Homo sapiens: one gene and its partners. The protein of the gene in region 6 interacts with the protein of the main gene of each other region in a biochemical or structural test. Each region holds a gene or a part of one and is shown on either strand. Other genes may lie near its edges.

Region 1 (3,500 bases), on a different chromosome or scaffold from region 6:
TACCACCCACCTGCCCCACCAAGACCTCACTCCCCTCTGAAGAAAGAGAACTAAGAAGGCACCCCAGGCAGCCCCCACAGCAGCAGCTGCAATACCCTTGGAAAAGGGCCCACAGCCCACCAGGCAGCATGATGGAGTAGAAAGAGCCCTACCCTGGCAGCCAGGAAACCTTGATTCTAGTTTTGTCTCTGCATCAAACGTGGTGCATAACTTTGGAAAAGCCATGTAGTCTCTCTGGGCCTCCATCTTGTCATTTGTACTTGAGGGCACTGAATAAGATGACAGATGATTCATCTCCCTTTTTCCTCTAACACTATAACATAAGGGTCCCATGCTTGGGCTCTGGCATGAGACAGATCTGAATTCAAATCCTCGATCTGTCATTTTATTAGGTAACTTTAAGTCTCAGTCTCCTCAGGTAATAATAGTATACTGCATTGAGTTGTTTGGAGAATTAAATGAGATACCGAGTGTTAAAAAAAAAAAAAAAAAAACTTGGAAGAGAACTTTGTAAATAGTAACTACTGCAGAAATGATAGCTATATCACGACTATTACTACCACTACTATGATGATGATGAGAATGGTGATTACTAATATTAGAGGGATCTCAAAGGAGGCAGAGTCATCTGAGCCAGGGATAGAGAAGCCCTTTCTACTAAACTACTGAAGTTGAGCATGTTGCAATTCCTCCAGCAGATCTAGACATTCAGGCAGGGCTAAGACAACCAGAGGCAAAGTCCACCCTTCCCAGAAGACAGGCCACAAGTGCTAGAGAAGAAAACTCCAACACTAAACCCATGTGGTTCTTTCCTCCAATCGACAAACATTTGTTGAGCACCTACTACGTGTCAGGAAATGTCCTACGCACTAGGAACACCACAATGAACACAAAGTCCTTGACCTCTCAGAGCTTGCATTCTAGAGGGGTAAAGAGACGAGATCCATCTTAAATGTTTCAATATATCATCGTATAATATAATATTAAATAATGATTCACCGATTAAAATTAAAGACAGTGTCATGGGCTGGAAAGCAGCCAGGAGGTTGGGGTAAGGGGACTATTTTAGAAAGCTGGTCAGGAAAGGTCTCTCTGAGGAGTATAATTTGAGGAACAACCTGCAGGAAAGGGCTGGGAGTGGGCCCCATCCATAGTCCCTGCCCCGAGCTCAGCATGGCCAACCTGCCCCGAGCCCAGCATGGCCACCTGTGGCTGGCCCAGCCACAGCACCGCACTTGCTTCATCCTCAGAGCAACAGAGCTGGCCCTCAAGGCTCAGAGCTGCAGCGCAACAGTTCTTCCCCCAGCAGGTCCCGGACCACAGCAGGAACCGGACCACAGCAGGAACCGGACCACAGCAGGTCCCAGACCACAGCCGACCACGGGCCAGCACATTTCTAGGCAGTGAGGTTTTAGAAGGAATGCTTCTTCTTTTGCAAGTCTCCTATCCACACCTGAGGGGTCATGTAAGGAGAACACGGCCGGGGGATACCAAGAACAATCTCTTCTCTGCATTGGGCACAATAATTTACCCCCAAGGCATCCTACTCCCCATTTATCCCCTTTCTCTGGCAATGACGTAACCCTGTCTCCCTAACTCCTCAGGGTCAGCCCCAAGAAGGGAGAGGGATGCTAGAAAGGTAAGACCATCAGCATTTTGCTCTGAGGATTTTGTGATTTTTTTCTTTTAGGCAAAATGTTTTCCAATTTCACTTATAATTACTAATAAAGAGAGACACACCTTCAGCTGAAGATGGGAAAATGGCGTCCGGTAGTTAAGGCAGCCAGAGCCCAGGAGAAAACAGGGGCTGGGCTGCTCTCACGGCCGAGGGTGATTTCAGCTCCTTCAGGCTGCAGCCTCCAACAAGGCCGAGCCGCCCAAGAGGTGGCTGATGCCAGGGGAGCAAGACCACCCTCCCGAGCTCAGCCCCAGGCTCTGTCAAGGCAGCAGGGAAAACCCTCAATTTCACCCACCTCATCCCCTTCTCCCCCTTCAATCTGTATCCGCCCACCAGTCATCCATGAGCCACCCACCCACGGGTTCGCTTGGTGGACGTGGGGATCTCATTTGAGGCTTCCTGCTGGAGGCAGGAGCAGTTTCTTCCCCTCTACCCTCCTCTCAACTACCTTGAGGACTCTTCCCCACTGACCATCCCTGCTTCTTGCCTTCCTTCCCCGTCACTACCACACCTGTCCAGAGCCACCGTATGAGGCTGGATACGCACATATCCAACAAACACAGCCACACCACACAAAGAGGCAGGCAGCCTCCTGCTTGAACCACACGCACAGTGTTGACAATCCTATGTTGTCCAATTGGAGGCACGCTGGTGCTTGACAAAACACAAACACCCTTCCAGTCCCCACCCGTAAACCAACACAAAGGCCACCAAGAATTTCAAGACCCAGAATCATCTGTAGAGAGGAGAACTGGGTCGGACAAAGACATTGTTCCATCCTCCCAACTAACCATCACAACTCTCTGGGATATTCTGCAGTGCCCTCTGGTTCGACACAGCCCACTGATCAGAGCTGTGCGTGTTGGTGTGTGTGAGAGAGTGTACACATGTGTATGGGGGAGGGGGCTGTGGCTCTACTGTCCAGGCATCAAATCTCCCCGGAGGTAACCCCGTCAGACTCTGCCTCCCCCACATAACCTTCCTCCAATGTACCGCAAACATATATTTCATGGATGGTTAAATTGGATCATTATCACTGGGTGCTTATTTGGTCAAAAAAAATTATTAATGTTATCTACCCCCATTCCAATCCCCTGCTTGTGAGGTCCCCTCCCACAAAGACTCTCCAACATGCTAATCCCATGAACTGCGACACACGACAGCTTTAGGGAAAGAATAATGGCGAGAAGAAAGAAGACCGCGGTTGCGGAGAGGAAAAGAGGCTCTAACGTGACCGCAGTCCCCATGCAAAGATGGGGGGAAGGAGCCATGGTGGAGGTAGAGTGGGGAAAGAGGTTAAGGGGAATGAAACCAAGCAAAATGAAGCCCTTGGCGCCTGTGTATGTGACAGAGACTGTGTGTGCAAGAGCGTATGCCAGTGTGTGTGTGGATGTGCCGACTTTGCCCTCCTATCAGAAGGCTGCATCCGTGTGGCATGTAGGAAAGGCCATCGCACGACTGTTGTGTTGCAAAAAAAAAAAAAAAGCAAGGAAAAAGGGAAAAAAGAGCCGCAGAGCCATCAAAATCAGAATTTTTTTCATGAAGATGGAAAGGGCTGGAGGAAGGGGGGGTGCGCCTAGGGTGGGGGGAGCAGTGTGTGGAAATAGAAGGCAAGATCATGGCAGAATTGGGGGAGGATGGAGGGGGAGATTGGTGGTGGGATGAAAAAATTTCACACACACACAGAGACACAAGCACACACAATGCCCAGACGCCAACCCGACCGCTCCACTGTTCATCCAAGACTGACAACCCGTCCCCCATCTCTCCGCTGCCTCTCCATGCCCCCAAAGCTGGTGCCGATGGATTTCTGTATCTCAGT
Region 2 (3,500 bases), on a different chromosome or scaffold from region 6:
CTGTGAATTTCCGTGTTTTCACGCCCACCTGCGTGTCTGTGAATTTCCGTGTTTTCATGCCCACCTGCCCGTGTCTGTGAATTTCTGTTTTCATATCCACCTGTGTGTCTGTGAATTTTCGTGTTTTCATGCCCACCTGCGTGTCTGTGAATTTCCGTGTTTTCACGCCCACCTGTGCGTGTCCGCGAATTTCCGTGTTTTCACACCCACCTGTGCGTCTGTGAATTTCCGTGTTTTCACACCCACCTGTGTCTGTGAATTTCCGTGTTTTCACGCCCACCTGCGAGTGTCTGTGAATTTCCGTGTTTTCACGCCCACCTGCGAGTGTCTGTGAATTTCCGTGTTTTCACGCCCACCTGCAAGTCTATGAATTTCCGTGTTTTCATGCCCACCTGCGGGTCTGTGAATTTCCGTGTTTTCATGCCCACCTGCGTGTCTGTGAATTTCCGTGTTTTCATGCCCACCTGTGTGTCTGTGAATTTCCGTGTTTTCATGCCCACCTGCGTGTGTCTGTGAATTTCTGTGTTTTCATGCCCACCTGTGCGTCTGTGATTTTCCGTGTTTTCATGCCCACCTGTGCGTGCCTGTGAATTTCCATGCTTTTGGAAATGCCTGTCTCTGAGCCATCTACTGTCCACAATAACCTTGGATTCAAGTCAACAGCAACAATGATAAGATGACAGCATCTTCCAGTATCTCCCACAGCCAGGCACTGTTCTAAGCACACCTGGGACCCTCTTAGGGTTGGTTTGCGAATGCAATCACTTTACACACAAAGAATCAGAGTGTGGCACAGAAGGGCTCCCGAATTCGCCTGCATGACACAGCCAGTGACTGTCAGTGCTGGCGACCCTGCCCTTTGCCTCGTTGTTCACTGTGGCCTGGCAGGGACAGCGGGAGAGGTGAGCCCCGGCCGAGAGCCAGTACTTATCAGTGCCAATTCTGCCCCAGATGCTGAGCTACCACTTTGCCAAAACTGTAATTCAACGTCAACATCCGAAGATCACTCCTCCCCAAACCTGGCTGAAAACAGGAGACGAAAACCACCATCAGGGCAGGCTGAAGGGAGAGGAGACAAAGACTCCAGTGCCCGGGGCTCTCCAGGACGCACCATCCTCTGCCTCCAGAGGATCAGAGCCACGCCCAGTCCGCTAGCACTCCGCTCAGCGTTCACTGCGCACAGACGGGGAGGAGACTTACCAATCTGCAACAGTATTGGTGTGACCAGAGCGGTTTCCATGGCGTAACAGAACTCCCTGCCAAACATCACCGCCCCGTGCATCACCCACAGGCGCATGGGGATTCGGTCTATGGACCCCTCGCTGATGGTCTCGCAGTTCTCGGCCTCTGCGCCTCCGGCTTTCTGCGGGTCCGGCAGGGGCACGGATAACTCTTGAACTTGCATAGATTCCGGGTCGGCATTCTGCGGAGCCATTTTCATTACCACCAAAAATATATGTATTTATCTATATATTCTATCTATATAAATAATGCTTTCATATATCTGTAATGATAAATTAAGACGTCTTCTCTTTCTGCTTCTGCTGTGTTCCTCGGGCAGGTAACACTTACATTCCTCTTTGCACAAGTGGCTATCTCACAACTTCTCACAACGGTATGAGACATGCAGCAACACAGAACGATTTTTGGTTGGATTTTAAACATATGGCTTGCTGGTTTACTGTGAATTAGAGTTAAAAATCCATAATTGCCATTCAGTTAATACCAGTTTCATCATTATTACTGAAGAGGTGCTGAAGTGATTTTTCTTGCTACAGAGAGGTGGGAAGGTGATACAAACAGGTGGTCCGCTGGTAATCCCCATCGAGTGACTGGATGATCTGCAAAAGAGGAAAACAACCCGGCCAGAGAGTCAGGGGACGGCCACCAGATGGCCCTGTGGACCGCCGCCCGACCCCCGAGCAAGCCGTGTGCCCCGAGGGCCCGACCCAAGATCACACAGCTCTCTGCCACTCACTCTGGGTACGTCTGTGCAAATAACCAAACCTACTTTCTAGAAAAACATTTTCTCATACGAAAGTGAATCCTGGGGAAGGACAAAGGTGGGGCAATCAAGGAAAGCAGGATCAAAGAACAGACAGAGAAAAACGCTGGAAATATTCACTCTTTGGCCAGTAACAATATCGTCCACCCTGTGTACCACAGCACGTAACTATTCCAGCAGGCTGGAGGCAGCTGGCGACACCCTTTGTGGCTGCAGATATCATGAAAGGGAAGTAAGGAGGTGAAGGGAAAAGTGGGGGAGGTAGGCAAAAGAGAATCAAAAGGGAAAACTTTTGTTTAAAAAAGTTTAATTTGTTAGTGACAAGGTCTCGCTCCGTTGCCCAGGCTGGAGTGCGGTCACACGACCATGGCTCTCTGCAGCCTCAAACTCCTGGAATCAAGTGATCTCCCACCTCATCCTCCCGAGTAGCTGCGACTACAGGCATGCACCACTACACCCAGCTAATTTTTCTAGGGTCCCCATTACATTGACCTGGCTGGTATCCAACTCCTGGGCTCAAGCGATCTACCCTGCCTCGGCCTCCCAAAGCACTAGGATTTACAAGTGTGAGCCACCGTGCCCAGCCAAAAAGGGAAACTGTAGACCCTGCCTGGAGAGGTGGAAATTAAAAATAAAAAGCAGCTGGGCACGGTGGCTTAAGTCTGTAATCCCAGCACATTGGGGGGCTGAAGCAGGTGGATCACCTGAGATTAGGAGTTCAAGACCTGCTTGGGCAACATGGCGAAAGCCCATCTCTACTAAAAATACAAAAATTAGCCAGGCATGGTGGCGGGCGCCTGTAATACCAGCTACTCAGGAGGGTGAGGCAGGAGAATCACTTGAACCCGGGAGGTGGAAGTTGCAGTAAGCTGAGATCGCACCACTGCACTCCAGCCTGGGCAACAGAGTGAGACCCTGTCTCAAAAAACAAAAACAAAAACAAACAAACAAAAAAAACAAAAAGAAAAGAAAAATGAAAAGTAGGAGGCTGGGTGGAATGAGCATAGCATGATTCTCTGTCCGGGGGGAGTTCGAAGTCTACCCAAAGGCACCTGGACTCCTGTGGTATTGGCCTTTAGGTTATAAAACCTCTTGGGAATAAAATGAAATTATAGACCTTTTCTCCAGAAAAAAATGTACGCATGTGCCAAACTCTGACTATAGTACCTAGGGGTTCGGAGACTCCCAACCCACACGCAGCTTTCCCAGGGTCTACGGAACCCTATCACCCCAACCCTCGGCTTTCCACCACCCTGCCTCCAGTGACAAACCCAGCTTGGTGACAAATTCCCCACCTGGGCAAACACATACAATAAAGCAGCAATAAGCTAACTGGAAATGCCACCTTGGAAATGTTTTAGGAAATGAGGTCAATCTCTCCTCAGGTAAGATAAGATCGGGGATGTGGAACACCCCAAGTTCAGGACTTCTGGAGTTAGGTCTCCAGACATGGGGTTCGGTTCAACTGAAGTGTTAGAGCCCCTAAAAACACACC
Region 3 (3,173 bases), on a different chromosome or scaffold from region 6:
GCACTAGGGACTACAAGTTGTGTGGCAGATCTTCAGGCAGCTTCTAGGAACACTCTGGATTGAAGTGGAAAGGAAGCATTTCCTGATTTCATTTTCTAGCTGTCTTTCCTACTCAGGTTCTTTGGGCCATGGGTCATTTCCTAGTGTGGACAGCTCCATAAGCTGTGTGGAGTGTCAGGCAAGGCTGAGCGGATTCCAATATGGGAGAAAGATGCACGGTGCAGGCGCAGACCCAGAGCCCAGCCAGGGTCAGTGTCCCAATGGGAACAATAAGGATCTAGGAGGAAGTGGAACCGGAAGCTGGCTGCTTGCCCAACTGTGGGGTCACTTGGGCTGCGATTTCACCTCCATTTTCTCCTTTGGCTCCTCCATGCCGCAGATGAATTATTTTCACTGAAAATGAAATGCCTATGGCTACAGCCCCACTGAAAGTGACAATCCACGGCAGGGCCCAGGCACTAGGGGCAGGGGAGACTAGGACAATGAAAGACAAATCAAAGTAACTTCCAAATCATGCCATTTATTTTTCCTTAATGGATTTTACAGCTCATCTGAGTCTCTGCTGTGTTCTCTGAGGAGCTGTAGAATTTGTGTCGATGCTCTGTGTCCTCCGTCCTTCCCCAAATGAGCACATATGCAGGGCAGGCAAGAGCATGCTGGATTTGTCTTAGTTGTTAATTCACCTTCTGGCTTCACTGTGACACACATTTATCTCTACATGACATTCTCAAGAAAAATGATTAGGACAGAATCACAGCAAGGAGTGTGGAAGAGGGAGTTTTTTTAAAAAGTCAGTTAAAGAGAAGCAATGAACCACGAGGGTCCTTTAGGTAAAGGACCCCCACTCCTCATCTCTTCCTCTTCATTCTTGATCTTTCAAAAAGAAGCACAGGAAGAGGACTAGGCTAGCAAGGGTGCTGGTAGGCTGCATGGTGCCTCTGTACCCATTAATACCTGTTAACAAAAGGCACCCCTTCCTGCAGGAGGTGTAGCCCTTTCCATGGGGCAAGGCTTGGAGGGGATGAAATATCCTCCAAGAGTTCAGAATCCCCTATGGGCCCTGATGCTGATGGAGATCAGAGCCTCTCACAAGGAGGTCCCAAGCTGGTGACCTGGGAAGGGAGGCACTGATGCTCTGCCTGGCTGCCAGGGGTGTCCTTTCACCACCCCACACACAATCTACTCCTTGCATCTTGGACTCTGTTTTACTTCACAGGGCAGGGATGCAAACACGAAGGAAAGAGGTGTGGCACAGGCACAGTTTTAATGTGCAAACCCTTCCTAATGCAGGATCCCCATTGAACGGCCTGGGACCTGGCTGCCTTTGATGATGTCATATCTCATCTCATGAACCAAGATGGCAGGAATTCTCTGCAGCCAACCTTGACAGGAAATCATCCTGGAAATCCGCTGCTTCCTTAATTCATGCAAGAAACAGGGAGAAGGGGTATGGTCCTCTCATGAATGTTGTGCCATTCAGTTGAGACGTGTCACGGGTTCACCTGACAGCTCAGGGACTAAGGCTGGGTGGACGTCATTTATTAAGTATATTACAGGGCTGCAATTCACCAGCTACCAAGTTGGACTCTTTGCTCTGGAAATTTAATGTGTGGCAGCTGCGTGCAGCCGGTGATGTCCAGCATTTTAAAAAGGTCAATTAAGAAACGGTTGATGGTGGTGCAGCTAATGACAGCCCAGGGGGGTGAGCAGGGCGCAGTAAACAGAAGGGCTGAGACATATATTACTGGAATTGAAGTGTCCCAGTGAAGCGTGGTGGGGAGGAAATCTATTGTCACAAGCCATAAAGCACATCTGAGTTTTGCAGCGGAGAGCAGTACAGCTGTTTCCCTCCCCAGGCAGCGCTGGGAGCAGCCAGTGAATGGAGGGCTCGCCTACAAAGGGGACACCTGCATCAGCTCCATCAATTTGCAGACAAAAATCGCTACCCTCCTCGCTGCCTGTTCCTTTGCACTTCTCGTTTTCCCACTTGGAACACAAGGCAGATGCTGGAGTGATACTCAGAATGTGGGTCATGTTCTAGAATTCCATATTTTAAGCATTCCGGAAGCAGGGCTCCGCCCCTCCTCGCTGCGTGTGGGCGGGCGGACAGCCGGGAGCCTGAGAGTCAACCCCAGCCAGCGCTCTCCTCAGAAGACATCCGCTCCTGCCTCGGTGCGCGCACAATGCAGGCTGCGGATCAGACCCTTTACACTGCGACGGATAAAAGAGGGACACGAAACCCTTAGAAAAAGTCTATTTCGGACTGTGACAGAATTGGCTCATGGTTGGGGGAAGGCACTGTGTGGGGCTCCTTTTTAAAGAATCAGACAAAGGGGTCTTAGAATAAGTGCAGGGCTGCTAGGACAGGCTTTTTTTTTTTTTTTTTTTTTTGCCACATCTACCTGTCAAGCTAGAAATTCAATAGAGCAATGGGAATGCTAATTGACATGCAAAACAGGTCTAGGGTTCCTAGAAATGTCTAATGATCCTCCAATTCATTACGAATCCCGAATTAAGACATGCACTAAATGAGATGGGAGTGAGAACAGCAACCTTTTTGCTTTTCCTTTTTTTCCTTTTAAAACCTGCTTTGGGAAACTTCACAGGTTTTATCATTAAAAAAAGAGTATTGCAATCAGTGGGTTTTGTCTTTCACACACTGGATGTTTATTATTAGAAAATAGCTTCTATCAGCTGTCAGTACCAAACAAGTTGAAAGGAGCGAGCTTCTCACCATATTTTTTTTTCTCCTTAATGATATTTAAATAAACAGCTCACTGTGTGAGCTCACGCCCTTTTTCCCTTTAAAAACTGAATAATTAAATGAAGTTTAGTACAAAACATTCTTCAAATATGACTTGTTCTGCATCTGTTATGCTGTCTCCTTGAGTAATGGACGCGAAAGAGATGAAAAAGACCACTCAGGCTACCAAAGTACCCCAAAGAATCCATACGAGAAACTGAGAAACAAACTAACTCAAATAAGACCCAACCAAACCAAGAAACCAGTTTTTACGTTGACTTTTTGATTTTGATTATCATCTAAGTTTAATATATATATATATGTGTGTGTGTTTGAAATAGTAATAAAAAAGGAAGAATTGAATTGCATCCGTAGCAGGACAACCTTCCTCATACGTTAAAGAGGTGTTCAGAAAATTCCATACAGTATC
Region 4 (3,500 bases), on a different chromosome or scaffold from region 6:
CTCATTTAAACTGTGTTTTATTTTGGTATCCAATCATCAGGGTGATTGGGAAATGTCTAGAAAACTCTCAGGCCAAAATACAATGGCCTGGTCACAAAGAGTATAAACATTTTGGCATCTGCAGACATCCTGATCCTCAATTTCAGTTCTCTGCCACAAGGTGGGATCATGCATTCAGCATACCAAACAAATACAAATTTATTCTAAGTTTTAAACTTCTACAGAGGAAATTTTCATATATTATCACTTCTCTTATTCCTATACATTGCTAAATAATCTAATGGTGAAAATATGTATCTAATTCCTGCTGATTTATTTAGAGTATTTCTTATTTAAGTTCATAAAATAATACTTGATGCATAAAATAATACATGTAGAATAAGTATGTGGTGATTATAATAAGAAAACAAATTCACATAACTCTTATTTTTATATGGAAGAACAATCAAAAGAGCCATACATGCCTGAAGAAGAAAAATAAGATGAGGTAGGGGGTGTCTAATAATTAAACCTTGTGTTACTACCACAGGCACAAATAATAATATGATCCAAGGAGGAGAACAGAAAGCTCAGGAAGAGATCTACATGTGGCAGAAACTTGACCTGTGACAGTGGTGGCATTCAGATCACTGGAGAAAGGATGCTGGGACAACTGATTAGGCGTACTCTTACTGTGTTCACTTTGGAAGAGCTGGAAAGCAGCTAGGGGGCAGACATCAGTACAATATACTCCTTTTCTGAAAACTATCCCCCATATCAGCTTTTGTTTTCTAACTTTATAACTGCAAGCATACATTTGGTTTGCTTCTTTTCTTTTTTTTCTTCCCAGGGCATTTCCAACTTTTTGCCTATTTTTCACATTTTCTTAGGAAACATTTTCTGTGAAATTCCAACACAAGACACATGACTTCTAAGTAGTGCTAAGAAAACTAAGAGGATTAGTTTATACAACTAGACATTTCCAAAATAAGAAAGTTAGCAAGATATTGACCAAACTACTCAAGAAAGGCAGTGTAAAAATGTGTAGGCACTTTCTGTTTCCCCTGGAGCAACTTCTAGAGTACCTTGAACATTCTAGGTGTTTAATGAATGCCTGGTACACTGTTACTCTATAATAAAAGTAGATTTTAGTCTGAATTCTCTAGTAGAATGAAGGGCCTTTCAGGCAACATATTTAATCTCTTTATCTAAAAAGAAATTCTGACTCCAAGCTATCATTTGGAACTTACTGTTACAAAGTGTTCCCAGGGTATCATAATCTTCCAAGGAGTCACAGACCACTCGCCATTGAGAAAAGACAGAGTTTGGGCTTATTAGAGTGGAATCAAAGTTGCTTCTGGATCCCATCAAGTCATCCGTGCAGATATCACAGACATTTTTCCCCGTTGCAAAATTCCAGTAAGGAAGGGAGAAAGAAGGCTCTTGCAACATTTCCTAGATCACAGAAACCACATTAATACTCTCTGCTTCTGTTTACAATTATTCATTTCTGTTTGGTCTACTCTCTGACAGTCTATTTCTATTAGCTCTCTTCAGACAATAAGGTACTGGTTAGTATATCAACGGTGTCTGAGGGGCCCAGAGGAGTTAAAACCTTATTTAACAAAGCTGGTAATTTATTACAAGGTGTCATTTAGGCATTAGAGGGAATGAAACTCAACTCATTATGCAGACATTTCTGAAAATGATTTAAAGGGATAAAGGGTCTTCTTTTTCTTTTTTAGGCAGATAATTACATTTATATTGGTTATACAAAAAAGTTATCAATAACAACATCCACTTCTTGGCATTTCCACCTTCTTCCATTTTCCTATCTTTAATTCAAGCATCATTAACTCTTAGTCTGGAGCCAGATCCAGCCTTAAAATATGTTTTGTGGAGTGCTAATTTTTGTTTTGCTTCTGTTTTTAAATTTAATTTGAATGACTAGGCATTTAGATTCTGGTTTGGCAACAGGCCAATGGACTCTTTCACACTGAGCACGGAAGGTGTTTTATTTAGGGAACCCTGCCTTAGAATCTAAACTTTTAAGACTCAGGCTTCTGCCTAAATTTATACTGATAAAAATGCTAAACAGAAGCAGAGTAAATCTTTCTGCCCATTGTTTTTTAGATCAGAGACCTAGTTTCCATTCAAAGCTGATCTCACATTTTTAAAAATGCTGGCCTCAAGATCACATGCTTATTTCATTCGGTTCTTTAAAACATACATTTCCTTGTTATTTCTCATTTCTTTGGTGCCTTGAGAAGTTCTATTTATGGTATGGGATTTAAATGTAGGGATTGCAATTGTTTTATCTTATCTCTCAAGCACTCAGTATATTTCTACTTTTTCACTTTAAATCCCTTCCTAGGAAGCATTTTCTTATCCTTGGGTGTTTTAGAGAGCCAAAAGCTTTCCAAGTTATCCCCAGTTATTGGTCTCCAGGGGTTTGTAGTCCTCCTTTAGAAGCCATCATTGTGGTTCACAAAAATTAGTGACAGCTTCCAAGGGATCATTAAGAATCGGTTTGTGGTTCAGCAACTGACATTTGGGAGCCAGAGCATATTCATGTGGCATTTCAACCACGAATTACATTTAAATTCTAATTTGTTGCATCCCTTGTGCTGTTGGGTCTTTAAAATGTAAGTCATAGAGGTTGAAGTTTACACAGGCAAAATTGAAGCTTTTAGATACTTTCCACCTGCCCTTTCATTTTGGTGTGCCCATGAGAAAATGACTTGAAGGCATGAAGATCTGCAGTCAATTACAAATGACAGATTTATCTATAATCTACTAAATGTCTTACTTGCAATCAGAGCTATAAAATATGACGTTCAGAGTATCAGATGAATTCATTTAATCACTCTCAAACTGCAAATGGATAGTGTACTTTCAAAAGAATATTTTATCCTGTATGTTAGTGCATTAATTCTCTCTCTTCTAACCATTTATTTTTTCTCGGAATAATGCTGGCACAGCATTCTGCAAATTAATAAATGAATCTAAACGCCTTTCCCTTCTTCAGATATTTTTAGCTTAATTTTTATATCTTAACTTGAAGGGGGAGATTCATTGCTGTTATTTCACATAGAAAACAGGTTTACTTTGTGGATTTCCTAGTTGAGATCTAACAACTTAAACTTTTATTTTAAAATTTCCATATTTTTCTCAAGGAACAGAGCAGTTGGTAAAAGAAATAAGAGTAAAGAATCTACGTAACTAGATACTTTAATATGTTTGAAGCTTATCTGCTTAGAAAATAAGCATGAAATAACTGCTTGAGTTGAGGTTCACTTTGTGCCAAATAAAAAGCCAATGTCTTTTCACTAAAAATATTGCCTGACTGATATAATTATTTTGATATTTTTCAACTTTTTTTCAAATTTTACATATTTTAGGTGTACAACATGGTGCTTTGATATAAATATACATAGTAAAGTGATTACTATAGCCAAGCAAATTAAAATATCTGTCCTCTTATATAGTGATGTGATATTTTAATAGGTTTCTTCTGTAAG
Region 5 (3,500 bases), on a different chromosome or scaffold from region 6:
TACAGAGCTCACGAGCCAGTGAGCGTCGCCCAGGGCTCCGTCAGGCCTGGACACTCACTGTAACCATGGCAACTGGGCAAACGCCCTGTACAGCTGTCCCTCCATCTGCAGAACGGGAGCCCACCTGGCATAACCTTGCATCGCGACCCCAACTTTCTTATTGAATTACAGAGCATGAGACAGAGCTTCTCCTTCCCTAACCCCTGGACACCAGTGCCCCTGAGCCAGCCACCAGTGCCAGAGCCGCAGCAGACACAGTGGAGCCACGGCCTGAGTGTCGGAGGCCATGTGTGTGAACAGTGTGTGCACAGTGAGCTCCGGGCCCTGGGCAAGCTCTGCCTGCTCAGTGTTCACATGGCACCATGCGTGACATCAGCTACCTGCACAGGGACCTTGGGGACGTCTGCCTGGGGTGCATCTGTCCTGGCCACGGTGGAGGAGAGTCTGGCCAGCTTGGCTTCCACCTCGGCAAACGGGTCCTGCAGGCCTAGTAACCCCTGCAGGGGCACCTCCTGCGGCTCCTCTTGCGGGAGGTAGTTCTGTTCCCCCAGCAGGTGCCCAGCGGCCTCCTGCCCGAGGCACTCATCCAGGAAGTATCTGCTCCTGGACTCCTCAGTGGGCATGGAGACCTCCACGTTGGAGGGCTCCTCAGGCCCAGGGAAAGCCTCGGACACAGAGGTTTCTTCGAGCGAGGATGACTCACTGGAGCCCAGAGAAATCTCAGATTTGGAGGGTTCCACCTTGGGCAGCTCCGCAAACCTGGAGGAAACCTGAGTCTTGGAGACATCGTCACTGGGCAGAGTGTCAGTCGTGGAGAAGACCTTGGGTTTCACCACTGTCTCATACTGAAAAGCAGGCGGGTACTCAGCGCTGCTGGCAAACTCAGCCCTGGACATGACCTCAGCCTTGTAGAGGACTCCCACCTGCAGGACAGCCTCTGCAAAATGGAGAACTTCCTTCAGGTTTTTAAAGGGTCAGAATGAGAGACCCTTCCCTAGAAGGTGGCTCCAAGCCCAGTGTGTTGTTTTTTTTGTTTGTTTTTTTTTTGTTTTTTTTTGAGACAGAGTCTTGCTCTGTCGCCCGGGCTGGAGTGCAGTGGTGCGATCTCAGCTCACTGAAAGCTCTGCCTCCCAGGTTCATGCCATTCTCCTGCCTCGGCCTCCCGAGTAGCTGGGAGTACAGGCACCCGCCACCATGCCTGGCTAATTTTTTTTGTATTTTTAGTAGAGACAGGGTTTCACCATGTTAGCCAGGATGGTCTCGATCTCCTGACCTCGTGATCCGCCCCCACTCGGCCTCCCAAAGTGCTGGGATTACAGGCATGAGCCACCGCGCCTGGCCCAAGCCCACTGTTTCTAAAAGACCAGCTTAAGAGTCAGAGCCTCCCAGACCCTCCAGAGGCTGGCTACAGCCTGCCTGCCTTCCCATCTCTGCTTTTATCAGAACCCAAACCCTACCACCTTCCACCTCTTCCAGGAAGCCTTCCCTGACCAACGCTGGGATTCCTCCATTTTCTGACCTCCACAGCCACTGAGTGCTGGGCTCTTAAGTCACACCCAGCCTTGGGACCACTCTTCGCACACTGGCAGGCTTCCTGGGGCCTTGTTGCCTTCCAAGGCTGAGAGCTCAGCAGATTTCATGCCCGGGTGCCCTCGGAGCCCTCACTGGAGTGGCCAGCCCAGGGCTCTTGTCCACTGGATATGCTAGATCCACGGGAGCTAAATGAATGCTGTGGATGAATGTCAGAGCTCCAGAAGCCAGACGAAGATCTGCTGGAGGCCTCATATTCAATCTGGACTGGAGGGAACACTCCAAAGGGCATAAAATGCTAGAATCTGCTCCCTCCCCTTCCCCTGGGTCTCCTCCAGGAGCGCGTCTCCCTTGCAGCGGAGACAGGGCTGCATTCACATGGGCCCCTTAGTGCTCCAGTTCAGGGGGCTCCCGGCGCCTCTCATACCTCCCACCCATTTCTTTATCGTTATGTCCCAGACTCCTGTAAGAGGGTCTTGATTTTTCCCTTTGCTGAAATATGGCACCCACTCCCTAGCTAAATGGCCTGGATCTCTCTCAGCCTTGGTTTCCACACAGTTATGGGAGGATTCAGGGAGTCCTACCTCGCTGGACTGGGGAGACCAGAGGCTCAGTGAGGAGGTGCAGGTAAAGCACCCACACAGTACCCGGCACGTGGTAATGTGCCAACAAGCGGTACCGACGGTGCGATCAGTATCATCATCATTCCAGGCCTGGATTCTACACTATTCATGAGTGCTAGGAAGTCTGGACCTCCAGGCAGCATGCGTGTTTGACTGACACTGGTATGGCAGAATATCCTAGGGTGGCAAAAAGAAGACAAAAACTAAAGGCTGAGTGCAGTGGCTCATGCCTGTAAGCCCAGCACTTTGGGAGGCCAAGGCAGGTGGATCGCTTGAGCCCAGGAGTTCGAGACCAGCCTGGCCAACATGACGAAATCCCGTCTCTACTGAAAACACAAAAATTAGCCGGGTGTGGTAGTGTGCACCTGTAATCCCAGCTACTCAGGAGACTGAGGCACGAGAATTGCTTAAATCCGGGATGGGGAGGTTGCAGTAAGCCAAGGTCATGCCACTGCACTCCAGCCTGGGCGATGGAGCAAGACTCCATCTCAAAACAAAGAAATTTTTTTTTAAAAAAAAAGAACACAAAAACCTCCAGATAGGTAAACAGCTGTGGCTAAGGATTAAATCCTTATTATGGAATGTGTTTGCTTTGCTAACAGAGAGGCTCAAAAGTAAGAGGAGACCGGAAAACACAGCAATTCGGGGCAGGGACTGGCCTCTAAAGAAAGGGTGGCACTTCACAGCTCACAGTCAGCCTTGAGCTGGGGCCCAGTCCATGGCTAAGCCATCCCAGTGCAGTGCTGTGGGTGAGAACACTGGCTCTGGGGCCAGACTGCTTGGGTTCAAATCCTGGCTCTCCTTTACCAGCTGTGTGACCATGGGCAAGTTACCTACCCTCTCTGTGCCTCAGTTTCCTCATCTATATAGCGAGCATAATTGTGGTACCTACCTTACTGGACCATTGTGAGGATAAAACAGACCTGATCCTCGGGTGTAGAAAATGCTCTGTGATGCAGTTACTGCAGTGAGGCGGAAAGGAGGCCACCTTCCCTGGAGACAGCCTCGGGGGGCAAGGGGTGCCCACCTGTCTCCTTCCGCAGGTTCTCCTCCAGCGTGGACAGCCTGACGTCATATGAGTTGCGCATGGCAGTGATGTCTTCCTCCAGCCTGGCCCGAGACTCCTGCTCGGCCTTATAGTCGGCTTTCAGCCGGGCCAGGCGCTCTTCATACTCCTGGGGGGGTGGGAGGGACCAGAGGGCAGGCAGCATTTTATCATCATTTTGAAACCCAGCTTTCAGTATTCCTTTTTGGTTATTCAAACAATACAGAACCTATAAGTAAGCCAAGAGAATCCAATGGTACAACACTGTGATAATTACTTGCCGGTGAAGACCTTTCCAAACT
Region 6 (3,500 bases):
AGGATCGCTTGAGGGCAGGAGGTCAAGACTATCCTGGGTATCACAGCGAGACTCCTGTCTCTACAAAAAGTAAAAAATTAGCTGGGTGTGGTGGTGCACCTATAGTCCTAGCTACTCAGGAGGCTGAGGTGGGAGGATCGCTTGAGCCCAGGAGGCTGCAGTGAGCTGTGGTTGCACCACTGCACTCCAGCCTGGGTGACAGAGCAAGACCCTGTCTCAGAGAACAAAAGAGGAAGGCTTCAAACATCCAGGACACGGGCTCCGACTGCCTCCTGCAGAGCGAGCCCGCCCCACGCATGTCCCCTGCACCACTCCTTCTCCGCCTACCTCGGCTGGCCTTCTCAGCGCTCAGACCCACGGCTCTTCCTGAACCTGTGGCCCCCCTCACCTGCCGTGATGGTGTCCACCTCCTTGGCTGCCAGCTCCTCCACGTCCGACCTCTTCCTCAGCTCAAACCTCCGGGATAAACCTTCTCGGGGTTTCCATAATTCCTGGATCAAGAGGGGCTTCTCACTGTCCCCAAACACCCGAAAGCACCGGGCCTGCCACCGCTGCCCAGCATCGCCGGCTTGGCCCACCACGTCACACAGCACGTACTGGCCGGCCTGCCTGGGGTCCAGGGCGTACCGCTCCAGCGCCTCCTTCACCAGCTCACGGGCGCTGGAGGTGCCGGTGGCCAGGACGCTCTTGTAGTGGGTTCCTGTGCAGACACTGTCCCCAAACACCTTCAGGACACCAGGGGCCGACAGCTGGGTGGAGAGCTCGGCGGGGTCATCGCTGGCGCCCAGGCTGGAGAAGGTGGAGTCCAGGTCCCGGTACTTGTAGCTCAGCGTCCGGGACAGCATGCTGGACAACAGCTGGCTCTGCCGCTTCAGTTTGCTCTTGGTGGGCGGGGACATGATGAAGTGCGTCCCATAAAACATGGTGGGTGAGGCTTCATGGATGAGGACTGTGGGCTTCAGCCAAAGGATGTGGGGAGGCCGTGACCTGGGTGAAAAAGTGAGAGAGGTTAGCGCCAACCATCGTGACCACCAAGAGCAAATGAGGCCACAGGCGGTGACTCCTGCCCGTCATCCCAGCGCTTTAGAAGGCCAAGGTGGGAGGACGGCTTGAGCCCGGGAGTTCCAGACCAGCCTGGGAAACATAGTAAGGCCCCGGCTCTACAAAAAATTTAAAAATTAGCCAGGCATGGTGGTGTGCACTGTACCCACTGCTCTGAAGGCTGAGGCTGGAGGATGGCTTGAGCCCAGGAGTTCAAGATTGCAGTGAGCTATGATAGTGCCACGGCCCTCCAGCCCGGGCAGCAGAGCAAGACCCCATCTCAAAATCTAATGGACATAACAGGCCGTGGGCATCCTGGCCCCGCAGACCTGACACCAGAGCACCTGAGCAGAGGATGTGGCTGGAGCCTGCAGGGCCACCAGAGACCGAGAGGACTAAACGGGCTGGAGCGCCCTTCAAGGAAAGCCATTACTGGGAAACACAATGAGGTCGCCTAAGTAAGACACGCTCCGCTGCAGGGCTTGGATTTCTGGAAAGTGCTGGGCGCAGCGCCCGTGTGCAGTGAGCATCAAGGAGCGCCCCACCCGGAGCCGGCCCCAGCACCATCACAGCCACAGAAGAGCAGCGGGCAGCCCAAGGGCAAAGCTTCGCCTCTCCGTAAACCTCGTGTCTCCTACCCCACAGGCTGCGACGTGGGAAATGGGTCACAAACACAGTGCAACCAGGAAAACAGGCGAATCGCAGCCACGTTGGCAGAATAGACCATCAGACATTCCAGACACAAACCCCCAGAATCTACCCCTCAGGGCAAGAGACCCGTCCTGGCTTGAAGGAGATACTCCCTGGGATGGCAGCACTGAGTGGCCTCGCAAGCACGGCGGGCACAAAGGGCCCCTCTCGAGCCGGTGCAGGCATGGCCGGAATGCAGGCGTCCCGCCCACCACAGGCCGCGGGTGCCCGGCGCTCCAGGCCACAGAGATGCAGTCTCCTGGGGAAACGGGAAAACAGCCTGGGACGCGTTGGCGTGTCATACAATCACACTTCTAATGTCCGTAGCGTGCCCAGGGCCAGGAGTTCCAGATGGTTTCTCAGTCTCCCTCCAGAACCTCTGTGGGGGCAGGAGGGCAGAGAAAAAGGAAGGCAGGTCTCCGATTTGGAAAAGGTGAGGCTGGACTGCAAGGCAGGAAAATACTGGAAAACTGCGCACACATCTCCCCATTACTGTACCCCACTTCCGTGCTCATGTTCTCACCAAAGACAAAGGTGGCAGACGAGTGAGCCAGGAGGAAAGCCTATTTTCTGGAAAGCTCTGGAAAGAGTGGTCCAGGTCCCAGTGAACACAGCACGGGTCGCCTGCCACTGCGACCGGGGTCAGTACTAAACACCGCAGCAGCCAACTGTCACTGTCCAGGCTTGACTCACTCGTCACGCTGCGGGCGCTGCAAAAGGCTTCTGGAAAGGACGGTGGCTGCCTAGGGCCACAGAAAGCAACCAGGGAACCCCTCCAAAGAAAAGGAGCCACACTGTCCCTTAGGAAACTAAACAGTGGAACCGCCCCAGCCTCCAAAGCTGACACTGCGAACTGGCCTCTTTCTAATATCACCGGGGCGTGGGTCATCTTCTCTGGAGCCTCTCACTGCCCGCCAGAGCTGTCATGGGTGAGTCCTGAAATCAGACCACCACTCGCTTCCTCCAGAACCAGCCCAGGTCAGCCAGCAGCTGTGCTTTCTCCGAGGACCTTGAACTCTTCAGAAATACTTCCGACAGCTTCGCACACCAGAGACTGGGTTCCCAACGCGGACGTCTGCCCTGCGGGGTGGGTGGCTGGCCCTTCTCCTGTTCCTATAGCCCACTGCGGACACTTCACCACGGCAAAGGCTTTCGCTGTGCCTGGCTTTCTGAAGAGGTGAATTTGCTGTAACAGGTCACGGAGTTCCCAGTACAGGTCATAAGCAGATGGAGCCTTGAGGTTCCATCGAGCCAGGCCATAAAGGAGTAAAGGAGCAAAGCCTTTGTTTCTCTTCCTCTGAGGAAGGTGCAACGAGTGGCCTTGTCAAATCCTAAGAAGCTCAGAGCCGGCCGCAGCTTCCCCCACGGACTCATCAAAGGCCTCGGTTTCATTTACAACAAAAGCATTTTCAGACAGTGCTCACATCACAAACGTGCGGCCTGGCCTGTGCACACCACACCAGCGGCTTCCAATCGCCCTCTAGTCTGACCTCAGTCTCCTGTGGTCAGTTTTCAAAGTGAGTACTTGGAATCACAGAACAAAACCCCTCAAAGAGCCTCTCCAGCCGGCACTTATTAACCATCCATGAGAGCTGCACAACCCTGCTCCAAAGCACCTCTCCAGATGCCCCAGGCTTAGAAGCCTCCAGGCAGCACACACTGGCAGAGGGTCGGCCACCACCTTTTCATAGTGCTCATTTCCAACGGGTTCCCCAGGGTGCAAAGGCAAAGTGCAGGTGGTGGATGGTACAGCCTCTGCCACCAGGCAG
Region 7 (3,500 bases), on a different chromosome or scaffold from region 6:
CTGTGCCCTGCACTGCACTTAGTGCAGTTCGTGGATCACCTTACTTCATCCTTGCAACAATCCTAGGAAGACGGGGGTTATTAGCCTCGCTTTACAGATGGGAAATCTGACTGTAGGAGAGATGAAGTGAGCCCCTGTCTGTATGAAGCCAGGCCTGTGAGCCTACCCATTGCACCACATTGCCTCCTACCTCTGCGTGCAGAGAGTGGGATAAAAGCTCATGGCTTGCCTATGGCCCATCTGCCTGGACTGTGTCTGTGACCCCCACTTCAAGGCTAAGAGTCAGCCCTGTCAGCCTCATCTGAGCCTGGTTCTCCCTCTATGCAGCCCAGATGCTCCCAGGGAGACCTAGCCGATTTCTGCCCATGCCCGAAGAGTCAGCAGTTTTCCTGGCAGAAGCGATTCCCCAGCAGTTTTTCTCTCCAGCTCAAGCACTGTCCAACAACAGGGTGGCCACTCATTCACTGCATGTGGCTACCAAGTGCTTGGAATGTGGCTACTGTGGACTGAGTTGTGCTATTGTAAAGTCACATCCATTTTGCAGGCTTAGTACAATAAGGAATGTTGACTATTTCGTTAATAACTTTTAATATTGATTACAAGTTAAACAGATAATATTTGATAGTAGTATACTGGATTAAATAAAATGTGTTCAAGTTAATTTCACGTTTTTTTAGTTTAAAAAATGTGGCTGTTAGAAAATTTAAAATTGCATATGTGGCTTGCATTTGTGACTCATATTATATTTCTGTTGGATGGCACTGGCATCAAGTTCCAGCCACCAGGCCCTAAGCCCTTAAAAAAATTCTACCTGAGGCCGGGCACAGTGGCTCATGCCTGTAATCCCAGCACTTTGGGAGGCCGGGGCAGGTGGATCACCTGAGGTCAGGAGTTCGACACCAGCCTGGCCAACATGGTGAAACCCCATTTCTACTAAACATACAAAAAGCTAGCTGGGCGTGGTGGCAGGCACCTGTAATCCCAGCTACCAGGAGGCTGAGGCAGGAAAATTGCTTGAACTCGGGAGGCAGAGGTTGCAGTGAGCGGAGATTGCACCACTGCACTGCACTCCAGCTTGGGCGACAGAGCGACACTCTGTCTCGGGCAAGGGTGGGCGTGGGGAAGACTTCTACCTGCTTTGGGGGTGGGGCTGGGGGCGGGGGCCTCAGGGAAGGATTGAAAGAGCATTGTCCCCCGCAGACCAGAAAGTGCCCATCCTGGTTTCTGGCAGTGGCTGTGGGTGGTTGTGGAGGCTCAAGCCACAGGTTGGGATGGTGGGGGATGTAAGTGGGAGAGATCGACAGTAAGTTTCAGACCATCCCTCCCGCCCAGGCAATTGTCTGCACAGTCTCGGCTCTCCCGGGCTAACAGCTTGGACAAAGGCTCAGTGGGGGTGCCAGCTGGTGCTGGTGGCCTGTGCTTTCAGGTCCTTGCTCCCAGATCAAAGGCACATTGGTCCGTCCTTGCACGGGGCCTCAGCTAACCAGCTCCCCACAGGCTCCGCTCCTTTGAGGCTGCATAGGCATTAACCCTGTCCAGTCTGGAGCCCAGTTCTGGGGGAGATGGGAGAGTCTGAGGAGCCTGTCATTCTCTACTCTTAATCTCCGCCTCCAGCGATCTTGCTAAGTCCTGAAGAATCATCCCCATCCCTCCTGGAGGTGGAGGAGAACACACCCACCCTGAAGCCAGGGAATGCCCTCATTTACATACATTTACATCTCATTTATTCCAACACCCAGGCTGAAGCCGAGGCTAATTCAGCTGACAGGAAAACCCCACCCGCTTTAGCTCTGCTGCTCTGCTGAAGTGATTCCCCAGGCAGGGATGAAATGAAATGGGGGTGCCTGAGACCGGGTCCTCCTCCAGAGGTGGGAGCTGAGGAAGAGTGGGCTCTTCGGCCTGAGCCCTGAATTTTGCCCACCTCCCAAGGACAAACTGGCCTGGGGGTAGCCACTCTCTTCACTGAAAGGTGGGTGGCCCTGCTTTTTTCTTCATAGCCCTTCCCCACAGTAAGGATGGGGGCCGGGGGCTTGGCAGCAGCTTATTCAACCCATCGACTGTTCATCAGTGTCTGGGTGCCAGGCCAGGGGAACTGCAAAAGGCCCAGGTCATTCAGGTACCCCCTCCAAAGTGCATAGGGCACCCCCCTACCCCAGGCCCGAGTCTTCTTTGTCAGCCCCTTTACACATGCCCAGGTCCATCCACAGGGTATCTAGAATATGCTGAGTGGCACTTCGCTGTCAGCCAAGGCAGCACTGCCCCTGGCCCTGGGTCTCCAGGGTGGGGACCTGGATGGTCTAATACCCTGAAACCACAGAGACCCAGAGTTGGAGTGCCAGCTTAGTCACCCAGGGGCATTCCACCCCGGACCCCAGACCATCTCTGTGTAAACACACATGGTATACATAATCAGGCCAGAAAGGTGCCCACATGTGGCCCAGGAAACACCGTCATGGCACACAGGTGCCCGAGACAGCAATCAGCGTTCTAAGTCTCTTTCTAGCTCAATTCCTTCCAACTCATTTTTCTCAATACTTGAGCTGAAAAAAAGCTTCACAGAGGAACTGTGCACTGATGCCATGGCAACTGAGGCATTTATGGGGCACCTACTGTGTGCACCAAGAGAGATGGAAACCTCGGAGGCCCACCTCTAGGGTCTCTTAGTGTCCAGAGGGAAATAAGCCAATCAACCAATACACTAAATTTATGCCACAAAAGTGTCCATGATGTATTATAGCCAAATGTGCAACCCTTTTTTCTTAATATTCTTTCATACTGAGGTACTCTTTAAACACAAGAAAATGCTTTAAGTATACAGTTGGATGAGTTTTGACAAATGCATACACCTGTGTGAGTGCCACTCCAATAAGACAGCAAACATCCCCTCACCCCAGAAAGTCCCACTATTCCTTTCAGTCAACTGCTCTGATTTCTATCACCTAGGTTGGTTTTGCCTGTTCTGGAACTTCATGCATATGGAATTCTACCTTATGGGCTCTTCTGTGTCAGGCTGTTTTTACTCAACACGATGTTTGAGATTTTTACCTTTTATTTGTTGGCGAGTGTGATCTAAGCTCCCTGTGTAATGCACTGTGAATACAAGTCACCCATCTGGGGACGTGTCCTTAATTTGATCATAAAAGGCGAGGACTGGAAGGGACCTGAAGTCCAGCTATCTCTGGGGACCATAGACCCCAAGGGATCCTTAGGGAGTTGTTATCTCTCCTTCCCTCGGACTTCCTGAAACAGAAGCTCAGCAATTAGACATCTAATAGGCACCTAGGCTCCGCAAGCAAGTGGGGGCTTTCCTTGGGTTTCCAGTTTTGCTGGCAACTAGCTGTCGCTTTATTTAACTGGCAGTCTGTGCTGCATCTGACCCAGCACAGTGGTGAGGCTGTCGCTGCAAATGGCCGGCTGAGCTCCCGTGTCTTCTTCTGACCACGTCTATGAGCAGAACATGAGGAACAGAGGCTGGGGTGGGTGGTCTCTGGCCCTCAGCC

Evidence for each region.
Region 1: the proteins of RADIL (region 6) and NRXN3 interact in a test that uses a peptide from one of them, tested with the Homo sapiens proteins (one large-scale study listed by IntAct).
Region 2: the proteins of RADIL (region 6) and SLC45A4 interact in a test that uses a peptide from one of them, tested with the Homo sapiens proteins (one large-scale study listed by IntAct).
Region 3: the proteins of RADIL (region 6) and MARCHF3 interact in a test that uses a peptide from one of them, tested with the Homo sapiens proteins (one large-scale study listed by IntAct).
Region 4: the proteins of RADIL (region 6) and TYRP1 interact in a test that uses a peptide from one of them, tested with the Homo sapiens proteins (one large-scale study listed by IntAct).
Region 5: the proteins of RADIL (region 6) and KIF17 interact in a test that uses a peptide from one of them, tested with the Homo sapiens proteins (one large-scale study listed by IntAct).
Region 7: the proteins of RADIL (region 6) and SCN5A interact in a test that uses a peptide from one of them, tested with the Homo sapiens proteins (one large-scale study listed by IntAct).

The regions. Positions count from the first base shown.
Region 1 is NC_000014.9:78,173,373-78,176,872, reverse strand, and holds part of NRXN3 (neurexin 3), read right to left. Parts: intron 1-3,500. UniProt on the Homo sapiens protein: Neuronal cell surface protein that may be involved in cell recognition and cell adhesion. May mediate intracellular signaling. Functions as part of a trans-synaptic complex by binding to cerebellins and postsynaptic GRID1.
Region 2 is NC_000008.11:141,252,789-141,256,288, forward strand, and holds part of SLC45A4 (solute carrier family 45 member 4), read right to left. Parts: intron 1,984-3,500; exon of another isoform or gene 1,842-1,983; 5' UTR 1,442-1,841; coding exon 1,201-1,441; intron 1-1,200. UniProt on the Homo sapiens protein: Proton-associated sucrose transporter. May be able to transport also glucose and fructose.
Region 3 is NC_000005.10:126,867,214-126,870,386, forward strand, and holds the end of MARCHF3 (E3 ubiquitin-protein ligase MARCHF3), read right to left. Parts: 3' UTR 501-3,173; downstream 1-500. UniProt on the Homo sapiens protein: E3 ubiquitin-protein ligase which may be involved in endosomal trafficking. E3 ubiquitin ligases accept ubiquitin from an E2 ubiquitin-conjugating enzyme in the form of a thioester and then directly transfer the ubiquitin to targeted substrates.
Region 4 is NC_000009.12:12,696,385-12,699,884, reverse strand, and holds part of TYRP1 (5,6-dihydroxyindole-2-carboxylic acid oxidase precursor), read right to left. Parts: intron 1,435-3,500; coding exon 1,230-1,434; intron 1-1,229. UniProt on the Homo sapiens protein: Plays a role in melanin biosynthesis. Catalyzes the oxidation of 5,6-dihydroxyindole-2-carboxylic acid (DHICA) into indole-5,6-quinone-2-carboxylic acid in the presence of bound Cu(2+) ions, but not in the presence of Zn(2+).
Region 5 is NC_000001.11:20,687,008-20,690,507, forward strand, and holds part of KIF17 (kinesin-like protein KIF17), read right to left. Parts: intron 3,329-3,500; coding exon 3,181-3,328; intron 1,817-3,180; exon of another isoform or gene 1,520-1,816; intron 938-1,519; coding exon 381-937; intron 1-380. UniProt on the Homo sapiens protein: Dendrite-specific motor protein which, in association with the Apba1-containing complex (LIN-10-LIN-2-LIN-7 complex), transports vesicles containing N-methyl-D-aspartate (NMDA) receptor subunit NR2B along microtubules.
Region 6 is NC_000007.14:4,877,217-4,880,716, forward strand, and holds part of RADIL (ras-associating and dilute domain-containing protein), read right to left. Parts: intron 988-3,500; 5' UTR 924-987; coding exon 389-923; intron 1-388. UniProt on the Homo sapiens protein: Downstream effector of Rap required for cell adhesion and migration of neural crest precursors during development.
Region 7 is NC_000003.12:38,639,688-38,643,187, forward strand, and holds part of SCN5A (sodium channel protein type 5 subunit alpha), read right to left. Parts: intron 1-3,500. UniProt on the Homo sapiens protein: Pore-forming subunit of Nav1.5, a voltage-gated sodium (Nav) channel that directly mediates the depolarizing phase of action potentials in excitable membranes.